2 linked regions of the Homo sapiens genome follow. The protein of the gene in region 2 interacts with the protein of the main gene of each other region in a biochemical or structural test. Each region holds a gene or a part of one and is shown on either strand. Other genes may lie near its edges.

Region 1 (7,000 bases), on a different chromosome or scaffold from region 2:
GTCCTCTTTTACTCCAACAGAAGACAATTTTTAGAAAAAGTATTTGAAGCCAAACAATTTCTTGCCCTTGGTATAAAGCAGCAGCATGCAGAAAACACTAATTACGGTTTCAATCTCAATGGAATCTAGGCTGGTCCTTAGCATCAGTCTGAGTGATAAATCCCTTATTCCAGAATACACTTAGGAAGAACTACTAAGAACATATTTTTACCTATTTCAAAGAAGAAAATGAGAAAAGGCATTGATTTTAAAAAAAAAATACATGTTACAGTTTGTACTTACTTTTTAGCAAGATCATATTCTTTAGCTTCATAATACAGCTTTGCAAAATAGAATCCTTTCATTGACTTCTAAAAAAAATTAAAAGTTGTTTTACTTTTCATACAGAAATATTTTCCAACATTTTTTCAAAAGTAGTAAAAATCTGTCCTAAGTTGATGTTCAAATACGCCACTTTCATTCACTTAAAAGTTTTTTTAAAGGCTGACAAATGCATAATTCCATGTTTTATAATTTCCTATCACAAAACAAAAAATAGAGCTGGGTGCAGCGGCTCATGCCTGTAATCCCAGCACTTTGGGAGGCCGAAGTGGGCGGATCACCTGAGGTCAGGAGTTTGAGACCAGCCTGGCTAACATGGTGAAACCCCGTCTTGACAAAAATACAAAAATTAGCCAGGCATGATGGTGGGTGCCTGTAACCCCAGCTACTCGGGAGGCTAAGGCACGAGAATCAGTTGAACCCAGGAGGTGGAGGTTGCAGTGAGCCAGAGGTTGCAGTGAGCTGAGATCGTGCCATTGCACTCCAGCCTGGGCGACAGAGCGAGACTCCATCTCCCAAACATCATCATCATCATCATCATCATCATCATCATCATCATCATCATAAATAAGCTGGGTGCAGTTGGTCACACCTTTAATTCTAGCACTTTCAGAGACCAAGGTGGGAGGCTAGCTTTGAGGCCAAGAGTTTGAAACCAGCCTGTGCAACACAACAAGATCCTGTCTCCAGGGAGAAAAAAATAGCCAGGCATAGTGGAGCATGCCTGTGTTCCTAGCTACTCAGGAGGCCAAGGAAGGAGAATCACTTGAGCCCAGGAGGTTGACACTGCCGTGAGTTATGACTGTGACACTGCACTCCAGCGTGGGTGACACAGGGAGATCCTCTCTCTAAATAATAAATACATAACATACAAAAAATAAATTCAAGAAAGTAAGACAAGCAGACAACAGAAGAATTTTCATCAGCCTTGGAAATCTTGGAAACCCTGTGGTACCACTCTCTCACTTAACAAACAAAAGAAACCAGCTTTCTTTGGGGAGGAAAGGTATTCCAGAAATCTCTTTTCCTACCATGTGTAAGCCTCTATGGGAAAGAATAAGTAAGTACTTAGGATCTATTAAGGCACTGAGGATTCCCTGGTCCATGTACTGTTCTCTCTACAGATCAGATCAGTATTTTACAGTCAAGGAGTCAAAAAGGCAGAAATAAATATTGAATTCTTCAAGTAATAAACGAGGTCCACAGCCTGGCTCCTTGGTTACATAAACTCCAAAGTCCAAAATGCTGATGCACACCAGGCTGGGTGCGGTGGCTCACACCTGTAATCCCAGCACTTTCGGAGACCGAGGCGGGCGGATCACCTGAAGCCAAGAGTTCGAGACCAGCCTGGCCAACATGCAGAAACCTCCTTTCTACTAAAAATACAAAAATTAGCTGGGCATGGTGGCACACCCCTGTAATCCCCACTGCTTGGGAGGCTGAGGCAAAGAATCGCTTGAATCCGGGAGGCAGAGGCTGCAGTGGGCCAAGATCGCACCACTGCACTCCAGCGTGGGCAACAGAATGATTCCATCTCAAAAAAAAAAAAAAAAAAAATGCTGATACAACCAGAGTATGTTCCATCCATGTGATAAAGAGTATACAGCTACTCAAACATCTTATTTTTGAAATTCCAAGACCCCAGTGAATGTCCAAAACGATGAATAGTATCAAACCAGGTTGCCGTCAATCGAAACATGTTTCCTGTTTGTGTCCTCCACCCACAAATTTAATGTCTTGTCCATCTCAACTAAGCACTTATCACACACTATGGCTGTAACTTTTGCAGTTTGGGGTGTCACAACAAAACTAGCACAAATTTCTTTTTCCTTCTTCACAATTTCATGGACAAAAGATTTGTTCTTACCATAGATCTTAGCAACTCCAGTATATGATCTTTTTTCTTTCCTAAGTCAAAAACTCACCTCTTCTGAGGGGCGCCTCTGCCCGGCCGCCCCTACTGGGAAGTGAGGAGCCCCTCTGCCCGGCCACCACCCCGTCTGGGAGGTGTACTCAACAGCTCATTGAGAACGGGCCATGATGACAATGGCGGTTTTGTGGAATAGAAAGGCGGGAAAGGTGGGGAAAAGATTGAGAAATCGGATGGTTGCCGTGTCTGTGTAGAAAGAAGTAGACATGGGAGACTTTTCATTTTGTTCTGCACTAAGAAAAATTCTTCTGCCTTGGGATCTTGTTGATCTGTGACCTTACCCCCAACCCTGTGCTCTCTGAAACATGTGCTGTGTCCACCCAGGGTTAAATGGATTAAGGGCGGTGCAAGATGTGCTTTGTTAAACAGATGCTTGAAGGCAGCATGCTCGTTAAGAGTCATCACCACTCCCTAATCTCAAGTAATCAGGGACACAAACACTGCGGAAGGCTGCAGGGTCCTCTGCCTAGGAAAACCAGAGACCTTTGTTCACTTGTTTATCTGCTGACCTTCCCTCCACTATTGTCCCATGACCCTGCCAAATCCCCCTCTGTGAGAAACACCCAAGAATTATCAATAAAAAAATAAATTAAAAAAATAATAATAATAAAAAGCAAGGTGAGACTACAGTACTCTCCCTCTGCCATGTGAGGACAAGATGCCAGCCAACCTATAAGCCAGGAAGAAAGCCCTCATCAGGAACCAAAGCAGCAGCACCCTGATCTGCCGCTTCTAGCCTCCAGAACCATGAGAAAATAAATTTCTGTTGTTTAAGCCAAAAAAAAAAAAAAACAAAAAAACTCACCTCTTCACTTAAAGGAAGCACTATATGGCTTCTCTCTGCATATGTGAACTGCCAGCATCGCTACTCTTGCTCTTTGGTGCCATTTTAAATAAAATAAAGGTTACTTGAACACAAGCACTGCAATACTCCAACAACTGATCTGATAACTGAGATGACTAGTATGTAACTAGCGGGTGGCGAGCACATACAGCATGAATATGTCGGACAAAGGGATGACTTGTGTCCTAGGTAGGACGGAGCAGGAGGCCGTGAGATTTTTACCATGTTATTCAGAACCGTTTGCAATTTAAAACTCATGAAATGTTTATTTATATAATCTTCCATTCAATATTTTTGGACCACGGGTGACACAGCTAAGTAAAACCACGTAAGGCAATACTGTGGATAAGAAGGGACTACTGTACCAGCAACGAACAATCAGAAAAGGAAATTAAGAAAGCAATTCCATTTACAATCGCATCTAAAAGAAAAAAATGCCTGGGAATAAATGTAAACAAGGAGGTGAGAGACTTGTATGCTTAAATTACAAAACGTTGCTCAATGCCAGGCTAACACCTGCAATCCCAGCACTGGCGACAGAGCAAGCCTCCGTCTCAAAAAAAAAAAGAACTACAGCAATCTTAACAAAAATAATACACAGCAGTCAGGACAGCACGTAAAGGAACAAGGCTTGTTCCCCCCTTCCTTTTTTTTTTTGAGATGGAGTCTTGCTCTGTCGCCAGGCTGCAGTGCAGTGGCTCGATCTCAGCTCACTGCAACCTCTGCCTCCCGGGTACAAGCTGGGACTACAGGCGCACGCCACCATGCCCAGCTAATTTTTGTATTTTTAGTAGAGATGGGGTTTCACCATGTTGGCCAAGATGGTCTCGATCTCTTGACCTTGTGATCTGACTTCCTCCACCTCCCAAAGTGCTGGGATTACAGGCGTCAGCCATTGAGCCCAGCCAGTTCCCCCTTTTCAAAATGAAGAAATAGATTCAAGGTACAATGCCAAAACATAATAGAAAAATAATTCCATTACCTTCTTTGCTTCCAACTATGTTATTAAAGTAGACAATCTTAAGATAATTAAACAACTTTACAAATTATTCTTCTATATGATCTTTTGCCTCTAACCTGCTCACTTTACAAGGGAACTGAAGCTCAAGCAGGTAAATGCCTTGTTTAAAGATACACAGCTAGGAAGGAGCACAGCCCATGTTATGTAAACAGGACAATATCTGATGCAAGCAGTACTTCTTTACATGACAGCAGATGTCACTATAAGCAAATACCTGAATTCACTTAAGCTGCCAAATATCAAGAACTGATGCAGGGCTGAAAACAGGAACAGTAAGACCCTAAGAGATGCCACATCATCTCTATCTTGCACAGTAAGATAGAGATGTAATTGTAATTGTCCAAAACTTAATATTTGTGGCCTACTTTTTCACTATGCAGTTCTAAATTTTTTTTTTAATTCAGATGGAGTCTCACTCTGTCGCCCATCTTGCACAGTCAAATGAATCTCCCTCCCCCTAAAATCCTCCAAAAACCCATCTGATCAGCTGTTCTCAACAAACCCATCTGATCAGCTCCAAATCTGTGGAGTCCCAACAAGGGTGAAGGCCGCGATTATACAGGACAATGAGGAAAAGTCTAGATACTGAACCATGAGTTCCCCAATCTTCTTCCCCTGGAACATAAGGGTAAGGAAATCTCTCAAAAGGCAGAACAAACAAAAGAGGAGAATAAGAGAAAAATTAGAGAAACTCCAGCTTTCAGGTAAACGTCATTAAAAAAAGGGTAAGAAATGGTCAAAGAAATAATACAAGAAATGCTACAGAACTGAAAGAAATGAGTTTCCCAATTGAAAGGACACTTCCAGAAAACCTTTAAGTTACCAAGAACAAGAATCTCATCGGACTCCTAACAACAGAACTTCTAGAAAATGGAGCAATGCTTTCAAAATTGCGAAAAAAAAATTATTTCAAACTCAGAATTCGATAACCAAATGATCAACTAAATTAAGTAAAGACATTTTAAAGACATACCATTAGTTTCAAGACCAGCCTGACCAACATGGTGAAATCCCATCTCTACTAAAAATAGAAAAAATTAGCCGGGCATGGTGGCACACACCTGTAATCCCACTACTCAGGAGGCTGAGGCAGGAGAATCGCTTGAACCCGGGAGGCGGAAGTTGCAGTGAGCTGAGACCATGCCACTGCACTCCAGCCTGGGCAACAGAGCAAGACTCTGTCCCAAAACAAAAACAAACAAACAAAAAAACCTCTCATCTACTTTTCCTCAAAGCAAGTGAGACTATGCTACACCAAAACAAAGAAAGTAAATGAAGAGGACATGAGATACAAGAAACAAAGGGTCTAACTCAGAAAAAAGATGAAAGGAATTCTCAAACTGATGATAAAGGGAAGTCCCAAGAGCACAGCTGTGTAGCAAAGAGGAAGAAAAACCAATCCTGGTTGGAGAAGTCAGTTAGTAAGGGTATTCCAGGTAGACAGACAATCAATCAATCAATCAATCAATCAATGTTTTAAGCTGCAATTGATGGGATTATGTGACCAGTTTGACCACATTTGAGGGTGTAAATTGCTGAGTTTAAGTAAGCAAGTAGTAACACAACATACAAGCAAACCAAAAAATAAAGCAATTATTCAGTCCAGGAAAAACAAAACCGCACAACAAGGGCAATTCAAATGCAAAAATATTTACCTTATATTTATATAAATGTTAAATATTCATTTAAACAAAAACTGCAATAACAGTACTGAAAGAATGAGGGGCAAACCAAAGTGTCTGAGGACAGTTTTGGAGGAGCATAATAACCAGTACAGAATGTCTAAAATGGGGCCCGGCGCGGTGGCTCACGCCTGTAACCCCGGCACTTTGGGAGGCTGAGGCGGGCGGATCATGAGGTCAGGAGATCGAGACTATCCTGGCTAACACGGTGAAACCCCGTCTCTACTAAAAATACTAAAAAATTAGCCGGGTGTGGTGGCGGGTGCCTGTAGTCCCAGCTACAGGCTGGGGCAGGAGAATGGTGTGAACCCGGGAGGCAGAGTTTGCAGTGAGCCGAGATCGCGCCACTGCACTCCAGCCTGGACGATAGAGCGAGTCTCCGTCTCAAAAAAAAAAAAAAGAAAAGAAAATGTCTAAAATGGGAGAAAGGAAATTAAAAATAACAAAAGTATATATGTGTGTTACTCAGAAGTATGAAGTATAGCTGTAAAGGGCAGAAAAAACAACTAACAGCTGTCAAAGGTGCCTGCCTGTAGTCCTAAGTACTCAGGAAACAGAGGTAGGTGGATCATTTACGCCCAAAAATTTGATGGCAGCCTGGGCAACACAGCAAGACCCTATTCTAAAAAACAAATAAATAAAAATAAGAGCTGTCAAGTAGACTTTGAGAAGTAGGAATCAGCTGCAGAATAAGAAATCAACTTGACAGAACATAGAAAAACTAAACAGAAGCCATCTGGAAAAAGAAAAACTAGAGAAAGAATTATATTTTTTTTTCTTTTTTTCTTTTTTGGAGACAGAGTCTCGCTCTGTCACACAGGCTGGAGTGCAGTGGTGCAATCTCTGCTCACCACAACCTCTGCCTCCAGGGTTCAAGCAATTCTCCTGTCTCAGCCTACCGAGTAGGTGGGACTACAGGCGCTGCCACCACGCCCGGCTCATTTTTGTATTTTTAATAGAGACGGATTTTCACCATATTGGTCAGGCTGGTCTCTCGGCCTCCCAAAGTGCTCAGATTACAGACGAAGAATATTTTTAAGGGCAAAAGCACATGTGAGGGAGTAGAAAAATGGCAAAACAAGAGAAGACTAACAAATGAAAGCACAATGAAAGACTAGAAAGATATGATATACAGACGCATCATCACACTCCAAAACTCCGACATTCTAGAAAGCATGGGCAGTTCACAGATGGCCAGCCTC
Region 2 (7,668 bases):
ACTCGGGATTGTTCTTAAGACGCTGACTCTAGAAAGGAAGAGACCATGGGGCCTGGGGAGTCTACCTGGAGGTGAAGGTGGGTGGCCGGGGAGTGGCCATCTCCTGGATCCAAGTCCGGTTGGGCCATCAGCATCGGGCTCCCTGTGCCCCTCGCATCTCCAAGTCGGCCTCATTCGTGTGTCAGATACTCAGTCGTGTCTCCTCGGTGCTAGGCCCTGAGCTGAGGCTAGGAACTGGGGACTCCGAGGTGGGCTGAACCTCACAGGTCCCACTGTCCCTGGGAAATGGTCCAGCCTTCCTATGGGGCAAGGACACCCCTACTCTTCTTCCTCCCCCACACCTGTAGCTTCCTGAGGTCATGTGGATGTGGGCGCCCCTGCCCTGGCATCTCAACCTGGGCAGTGTTCCTGCCAAGCCCTGGGCTCTAGGTGTGACAAAGCTGTCTTCGTTTTCTGTCTCTCCATGAAACCTGGGGCTCCTTGAGGACAGGGACAAGATCTGATTTTTTTTTGTTTTTTTTTTTTGTTTTTTTGTGGGGGATGGAGTCTCGCTCTGTTGCCCAGGCTAGAGTGCAGTGGCACAATTTCGGCTCACTGCCAGCTCCGCCTCCAGGGTTCACGCCATTCTCCTGCCTCAGCCTCCTGAGTAGCTGGGACCACAGGCGCCCGCCACCACACCCGGCTAATTTTTTGTATTTTTAGTAGAGACGGGGTTTCACCACGTTAGCCAGGATGGTCTCGATCTCCTGACCTCATGATCCACCCACCTCGGCCTCCCAAAGTGCTGGGATTACAGGCATGAGCCACCGCGCCGGGCCGATCTTATTTTTTTGTGTCCACAGCATGGATTTCCCTGGTGATCCACCTGCCCCTGCCCTGGGAGCAGGTGCTCCCACCCCACCAGGCTCTCTCCCTCCTGGCTGAGGTGAGGTCTCTGGGCTCATGGAGCCAGGCCTTAGAGCCAACCTGGGCTGCTGGGTAGAGAGGATCTGCTTCAGCCAGCTCTTTCTGCAGTGATGACGAGGACGAGGAGGAGGAGGAGGAAGGAGAAGAGGAAGAAGAGGAAGCAGAAGAAGAGGAGGAGGAAGATGAGGAAGAGGAGGAAGAAGAGGAGGAGGAGGAGGAAGAAGAGCCTCAGCAGCGAGGGCAGGGAGAGAAGTCAGCCACGCCCTCACGGAAGATTCTGGACCCTAACACTGGGGTGAGTTTCTATCATCTGCCACAATCAGAGCCCTGGTCCTGAGAACGTGAAATCCCGAGGCACTTTCACAATGGGGTAGGGGGTGTCTCCTTAAGCACAGTAGCCACAAACATTTTTTTTTGATTGCATGATATTGAGTAAAAAAAGGAAAATGGTCCCAGTGTAATGATAGTTACCTATATTTCTTTTTTTTTTTTTTGAGATGGAGTCTCACTCTTGTCACCCAGGCTGGAGTGCAGTGGTGTGATCTCGGCTCACTGCAACCTCTGCCTCCCGGGTTCAAGTGATTCTTATGCCTCAGCCTCCCAAACAGCTGGGATTACAGATGCTTGCCACCACGCCTGGCTAATTTTTGTATCTTTAGTAGAGCCGGGGTTTCGCCATATTGGCCAGGCTGGTCTTGAACTTCTGACCTCAGGTGATCCACCCTCCTCGACCTCCCAAAGTGCTGGGATTACAGGCATTGAGCCACCGGGCCCAGCCATAGTTACCTATATTTCTATTTACCCCAATATAAATGTCTATTTACAGGTAGCAGTGCTGCTGCATTATGTATATTATAAGATATGCATAAGGGTTTCTGAAAGAATAAACAAATAAGCATAAATAGAAATTCTGATTTTTTTTTTCCCCACCCACCAGAGGATTGTCTTGGTGACCCTTAGGAACCACTCCCCCATTCCTGGGATGGTGGCTGGGCCATGACCTGGCTTGGGCACTTGGTGTCCCTTGTCTGGCCCGGGGCTGCATCAGGGCTGCCACACCTCCAGTTCATTCATTTGCATTCCCTGTCAGGTTCCTAAGTAAAGCTCCTGGAGAACTTGGCTCTGGACAAGGACTCCCCATGCTTACGCTGAATTGGGCTGCTTCTCTGGTTTATGGAATCAATTAAACAAATGGCTAGGTTCGCCTCAATTCAGTTTTTCCTCTGGGCACCTCTGGTGCTAGCAGGGCTTACCCAGGCTGGACTGTAGTTCTACGGGGACCCACTTTAGCCCCCATGTGCCTCCGTAGTCATTTCTGGGGCACTGCATGTCATGACGAGGATCCACTTGGCCGTAGCAGGTTTTTTGAGTCCCAGGGAGGTAGCTTCCCCCTCACCCCAAAGGCTCCTGGACCAAGAGCCATCCAGGGCCAGCATCTCTGGGTGATATTGATAGATGGGAAATGCAGCTGAGTGGGAGGAAGAATTCTAGACTTTGAGCCTAGATGGGCTGGAGTGAAGGGTGGATGTGCTGGGTGTGGGGATGGGCACAGCTGTGTCGGGGAGTCTGGGGTCCGGAATTCTCCAGAGCCTCTGTGCCCCTACTTCCCAGGAGCCAGCTCCCGTGCTGTCCTCCCCACCTCCTGCAGACGTCTCCACCTTCCTGGCTTTTCCCTCTCCAGAGAAGCTGCTGCGCCTAGGGCCCAAGAGCTCCGTGCTGATAGCCCAGCAGGTAATAACCACCCCTCGACCCCCACGCTGTACGTGCTGTGGCTTCTGGAGCTGTTAGAGAAAAGGGACGAACAGCTCAGAGACCTGGGGGTGCGACGCTGTCAGCTGGGGGCAGGGAGGCTTGGCCTGCCACTGTTACAACACGCGCAAATGTCCAGGGTATTTATAAGCCTCCAGGGGTTGCAAATGTTCCCTCCCCACTCAGCCTACAGAAAGTACAGCCCGCCAGTTCCCATGCTGACTGGGGTTAGGGAATTTCCTTAAGAGCCTTGCATGTGCCCACCCCCTCCTTGGCTTCTCTCTGCGTGTTCCGTCAGCCCAGCTGCTTCGAGAACAACTCTGTTGCCCAGGGCTCCTTTGGAAGTGACGTGCCTATTGCAGGATGGGTGCCCTCACTCCAGCCTCACTTGTTGGTTGGCTCATTCATTCATTCATAGATGATCTTCGGGGCATCCATTTTCTGCCAGGCACTGCATTTGGGCATGATTTTATTTAACCCTCTTGGCAACATGAAATGTAGACTCTGCTGCCCTTACTTTATTTTATTATTTATTTATTTATTTATTTTTTTGAGATGGAGTCTCACTCTGTCGCCCAGGCTGGAGTGCAGTGGCACGATCTCGGCTCACTGCAGACTCTGCCTCCTGGGTTCAAGCAATTCTCCTGCCTCAGCCTCCCGCGCCCAGCTAATTTTTGTATTTTTTAGTAGAGACGAGGTTTCACCACGTTGGCCAGGCTGGTCTCAAACTCCTGACCTCATGATCCACCCACCTCGGCCTCCCAAAGTGCTAGGGTTACAGGCATGAGCCACCGTGCCCGGCCAGCCCTTATTTTGTAGATAAGAAAGCGGAGGCTCGGAGGTTACAGAGAAATAAAATGGGCCCACTCTCAGAGTTGGCTTAACATTTCGGCCAATTGCTTTGTTAGGTTTTGCCTGTATTCTTTGTTTCTTTTAACATGATAAATCAGATGTTGTAAGCCTTTCTGTGGCCTATCACTTTGGTGTAGCACCATTCATCACTTTCTTGTGCCCATAAAACTCTTCTCAGGATTTTTATTGCAATGTGTGGATGTAGCACTTAAAAGCCAGGCACTGTTTCTGACGTTTTTTCCACTTTTCCCTGTTGTGAGGTTGAGGTAAACGTTTCTGCATGTGAGTATTGTCTACATGCTAGATTATTTCTTCAAGTTCAATTACAAGATGGGGACCACTGGATCCCTGAAATGATTTTTTTTTTTTTTTTTCTGAGACAATGTTTTGCTTTGTGACTCCGGCTGGAGTGCAGTGGTGCAATCATGGCTCAGTGCAACCTCGACCTCCTGGGCTCAAGCAGTCCTCCTGCCTCAGCCTCCCAAGTAGCTGAGACTATAGGCACACACCACCAACCTTGGCTAATTTTTTTCCTTTTTGTTGACATGGGGTCTTGCTATGTTGCCTAGGCTGGTCTCAGACTTTTCGCCTCAAGCCATCCTCCCACCTCAGCCTCCCAAAGTGCTGGGGTTACAGGCATGAGCCGCCACACCCGGCTGGGATGATTTTTCATCCTTGTTCATTCACTCATTCATTCCCTCTCTATGCTGCATATGTGCTTGCTGCAGGCCAAATCCAAGCCAGACTCTGAAGGGACAGCATGGGGTAAGGCAGGACCTGTTCTTGCCCGCCAGGGGCCTTTGTACTGCCCAGGCCTCTCCTAGCTAGCGTCAGAGCCCAGGTACCTCTCCACCACGTGCCACAGGCCAACCATTGTCTCTTTTGTCCTCAGACTGACACGTCTGACCCCGAGAAGGTGGTCTCTGCCTTCCTAAAGGTGTCATCTGTGTTCAAGGACGAAGCTACTGTGAGGATGGCAGTGCAGGATGCAGTAGGTAATGTGGGCTGGGTGAGACCTGGGTGCCCTCTGTCCCTTGATGCTCGTGGGCCCCAGGTATCCTTCGTGGTTGCCGTAACTCGTCAGCCCCAGCGCTCTCATGGGAACTGCTCTTTGGCCACCTGAGTTTTTCCTCCGTCAGGGTCCTGCCGTGGAGCCAGCTGGCTGCTCTTCTCCCTGTTTTTCACCACTGAGAAACTGAGGCCTTTCCCAAATCCACACAGCCATGTACAGTTAGAACCCATAGCCCGCTCTAGGAAGTCCAGATAGTCACATCTGCAAGCCCAATGGACGCAGGTCTATCGGGAGGAGGGATGGTGAGAGCCAAGCCCTTGTCCACACCTTGGAGCTTCTGTGCTCACGTCCACTCTACCTGGAGGTTCCTTGCACAGAGGACACCTTTCCCCATAACATTATGGGGGCTTCCTTGGAGCACCAGCCCATATCCCTCCAGCCCTATCACAACCCTCTCCCCACCCTGTCTGTTTCCTCCATTCCAGCACCTGTCACCTTCCACCCTGTTTCCATGTGCTTGACTGAGCCTCCACATCTAACGAAACCTGAGCCAGTTCCGGTTAGGCAGAGGGGAGGAAGGGCCCTGAGGCGAGGGGGACGGTTCCTGGAAAAGATAGAAAGGGGTGGAAGGACATGTGGTGCCTCTTCCCGGCGTGGCGTCGAAGCGGGGAGGGCGGCTCAGTGGGAAATGAGGCTCGGAAGGAGGTGGGGGCCAGACACAAGCCTGCTCCCTGAGGGCCCGCCTGTGGGCATTTTTGGGAACAAGTTGCCCTAGTTCTGTTTCCCAGGAAGCCTAGCACAGTCCCTGCACATCCCCTCACCCTGCCAAAATAACCTGAATCCTCCCCAGTGGTAGCCTGCCTCAGGAAATCTCCATTCCCACGGTGTGAGGTGGGCACAGTGGGTGTCATCCCCATGCCCATTTTATACCTGAGGCCAGGATGGGCAAGGGCCAGAGTGTCACAGCTGGCAGATGGACTGAGCCCATCCCCTGATGCCAACTGCCACTCCCTCTGGTTCCTGTGTCTCTGCCGTCCCTCTCGTGTTCGCCTCTTCGTCAGGGCGAGGAGGCAGGCGAGCCTGTGTCTGCGCGGTGTTGGGGGAACCCTGGGTGCCTTGGCCCAGCCCTCTGCCATAGCCAGCAGCCTGCCCCTGCTGCTTCTGCCCTACAGATGCCCTGATGCAGAAGGCTTTCAACTCCTCGTCCTTCAACTCCAACACCTTCCTCACCAGGCTGCTCGTGCACATGGGTCTGCTCAAGGTGAGGCCGGAAGGAACAGCAGGCCCGGGAGGGAGGTGGGTGGGGTCTGCACAGAAGCTGCCCCAGCCATGCCCGCCAACCTCCCTCACCTCGAGTCCTGAGCCGGCTCGCCCACGGGGCCCCGAGGCCTGGGTCTGCCCCAGCAGCCTTGGTCTTCACGATGAGATTCCGGCTAGACTCAGTTGTGGGCACTATCAGCAGAGTCTGGATGGTGGAGTCCAGGGGCCCCCCCAGGTGACTTTGAAGCTCACCCCGCTTTTCGCTGTGTTCCTCTCAGAGTGAAGACAAGGTCAAGGCCATTGCCAACCTGTACGGCCCCCTGATGGCGCTGAACCACATGGTGCAGCAGGACTATTTCCCCAAGGCCCTTGCACCCCTGCTGCTGGCGTTCGTGACCAAGTGAGTGTGGCCTTGTCCTTCTGCCGGTGCCTGCCCTCTCGGGCTTCTCTGGCCAGGTCTGAAGGCGCCCGGTTCCGGGAGGCCCAGCCCCAGCCCAGCCAGCCTGCTGGCCCCACTCAGGTGCATGAGAGGCCCTCATGCCTCCTGGGCTCTCAGCATCTGCATTGGAGTCTCACCACCCTTGGGAGGCCCACTCCCCTCTGCCCAGCTGAGGACAGTGGGGCTCAGGGACAGTGAGAGAGGAGACATGCGGCGCCCCCATTGTGCAGATGAGGAGCACTGGGTTGGTTAAGGAGTTTCCCTTGGTCACACGCTAGCAAGAGGCTGGGCCAGTGTCCAGACCCATGTCTGCTGAGCGAGGTGCTGCGGTTGGTGACATCTCCGGAGTGGCTTTTTGTCCACATTCACAGCAGCGCAGGCCAAAGGGGCCTGGTCACACCAGGCTCTGCAGCCCCGGGCCCTCTCCTGGGGACACACATTGCCACGGGAGCTGCCAAATGCCCAGCAATGTGTGAACCTTGGCCTTGTTCTGGAGGGTCCTGGGGTGTCCCGGGGCATTGATGGGGTGATGGGCACAGTCAAGTAAGAGAGGCAAGGCCCCACCAGGGAGGGGTCGGGAGGCTTGCCCTCTGAAGGCCCTGTGTGGCCCCTGGCCAACCTGTGGCCTTCATCAGGCCTCAGTCTCCCCATTTGTCCAACCGGGGGGTTAGGTGAGATTGTCTCCAAGCGCCCTGACCAGCCACACTTCCAGTCAGTCGGCGCCATCCGGGGACATGGGGCAGGCAGAGGAGCAAGGAAGTCCCTTTGCTGGGGGAGCCCAGAGCCCACCAGCTGAGGCAGGATACTTGGTGCATGTGGGGAGGCGGGGCTGGCGGAGCGTGAGCGGCCCCCGCTGGCCTCCAGCACCCAGCTGGTGCCGCGGCAGCCCTGTCCACTCCAGTGTCTGCATGGCGCCGCCTCCTTAGCCAGGCCTTACCTTCTGGCCGCATTTCCCCCACACCAGACCACCCCTTGGGCTGCAGCTGGACTGGCCTTGGTGAATGGCAGATCTCACTGTTCCCCTCCTCTGCCAGGTGCTAGGTAGAGCCTCACTGTGAATCTCATGGCTGGCCACAGCCTCACCCCGACCCCACCCCACCCCACCCCAGCACAGTGTGCTCTCCCTGAGCCCCTTTCCATAGCAGTGCTGTTGCTGCAGTGCCGAGCTTTGCCCATGCTGTCCAGAGCTTGTTTGGCCAGTGGCCCCAGCCCCCGTCTGCGCCTGAGCCCTTTGTGTCCTTCCTGCCCCCTGGTCAGAGTAGTTCCCTCTGTATCCCTGGCAGCCCCTGTGCTATCCTAAGCCTGGGCATGTGCCTCTTGCCCTTGTTGGTCAGAGCAAAATGCCTTTTCCCAGCTTGTTGCCCAACCTCCAGCACAGGCCTCAGTCTGCCCCCTGGGTCTTGTCCAAGGTGACTGATTAACTATGTAGTGACATGCACGGACCCTCTTC

The links. Proteins that work in one complex are often made in the same cells at the same time.
Region 1: the proteins of RANGAP1 (region 2) and RANBP2 form a complex in vitro, tested with the Homo sapiens proteins (5 studies listed by BioGRID and IntAct, with this or other methods).

The regions. Positions count from the first base shown.
Region 1 is NC_000002.12:108,722,482-108,729,481, reverse strand, and holds part of RANBP2 (E3 SUMO-protein ligase RanBP2), read right to left. Parts: intron 351-7,000; coding exon 283-350; intron 1-282. UniProt on the Homo sapiens protein: E3 SUMO-protein ligase which facilitates SUMO1 and SUMO2 conjugation by UBE2I. Involved in transport factor (Ran-GTP, karyopherin)-mediated protein import via the F-G repeat-containing domain which acts as a docking site for substrates.
Region 2 is NC_000022.11:41,247,841-41,255,508, reverse strand, and holds part of RANGAP1 (ran GTPase-activating protein 1), read left to right. Parts: intron 1-842; coding exon of another isoform or gene 843-924; exon of another isoform or gene 925-1,014; coding exon 1,015-1,201; intron 1,202-2,458; exon of another isoform or gene 2,459-2,517; coding exon 2,518-2,637; intron 2,638-4,399; coding exon 4,400-4,502; intron 4,503-5,691; coding exon 5,692-5,780; intron 5,781-6,057; coding exon 6,058-6,179; intron 6,180-7,668. UniProt on the Homo sapiens protein: GTPase activator for RAN. Converts cytoplasmic GTP-bound RAN to GDP-bound RAN, which is essential for RAN-mediated nuclear import and export. Mediates dissociation of cargo from nuclear export complexes containing XPO1, RAN and RANBP2 after nuclear export.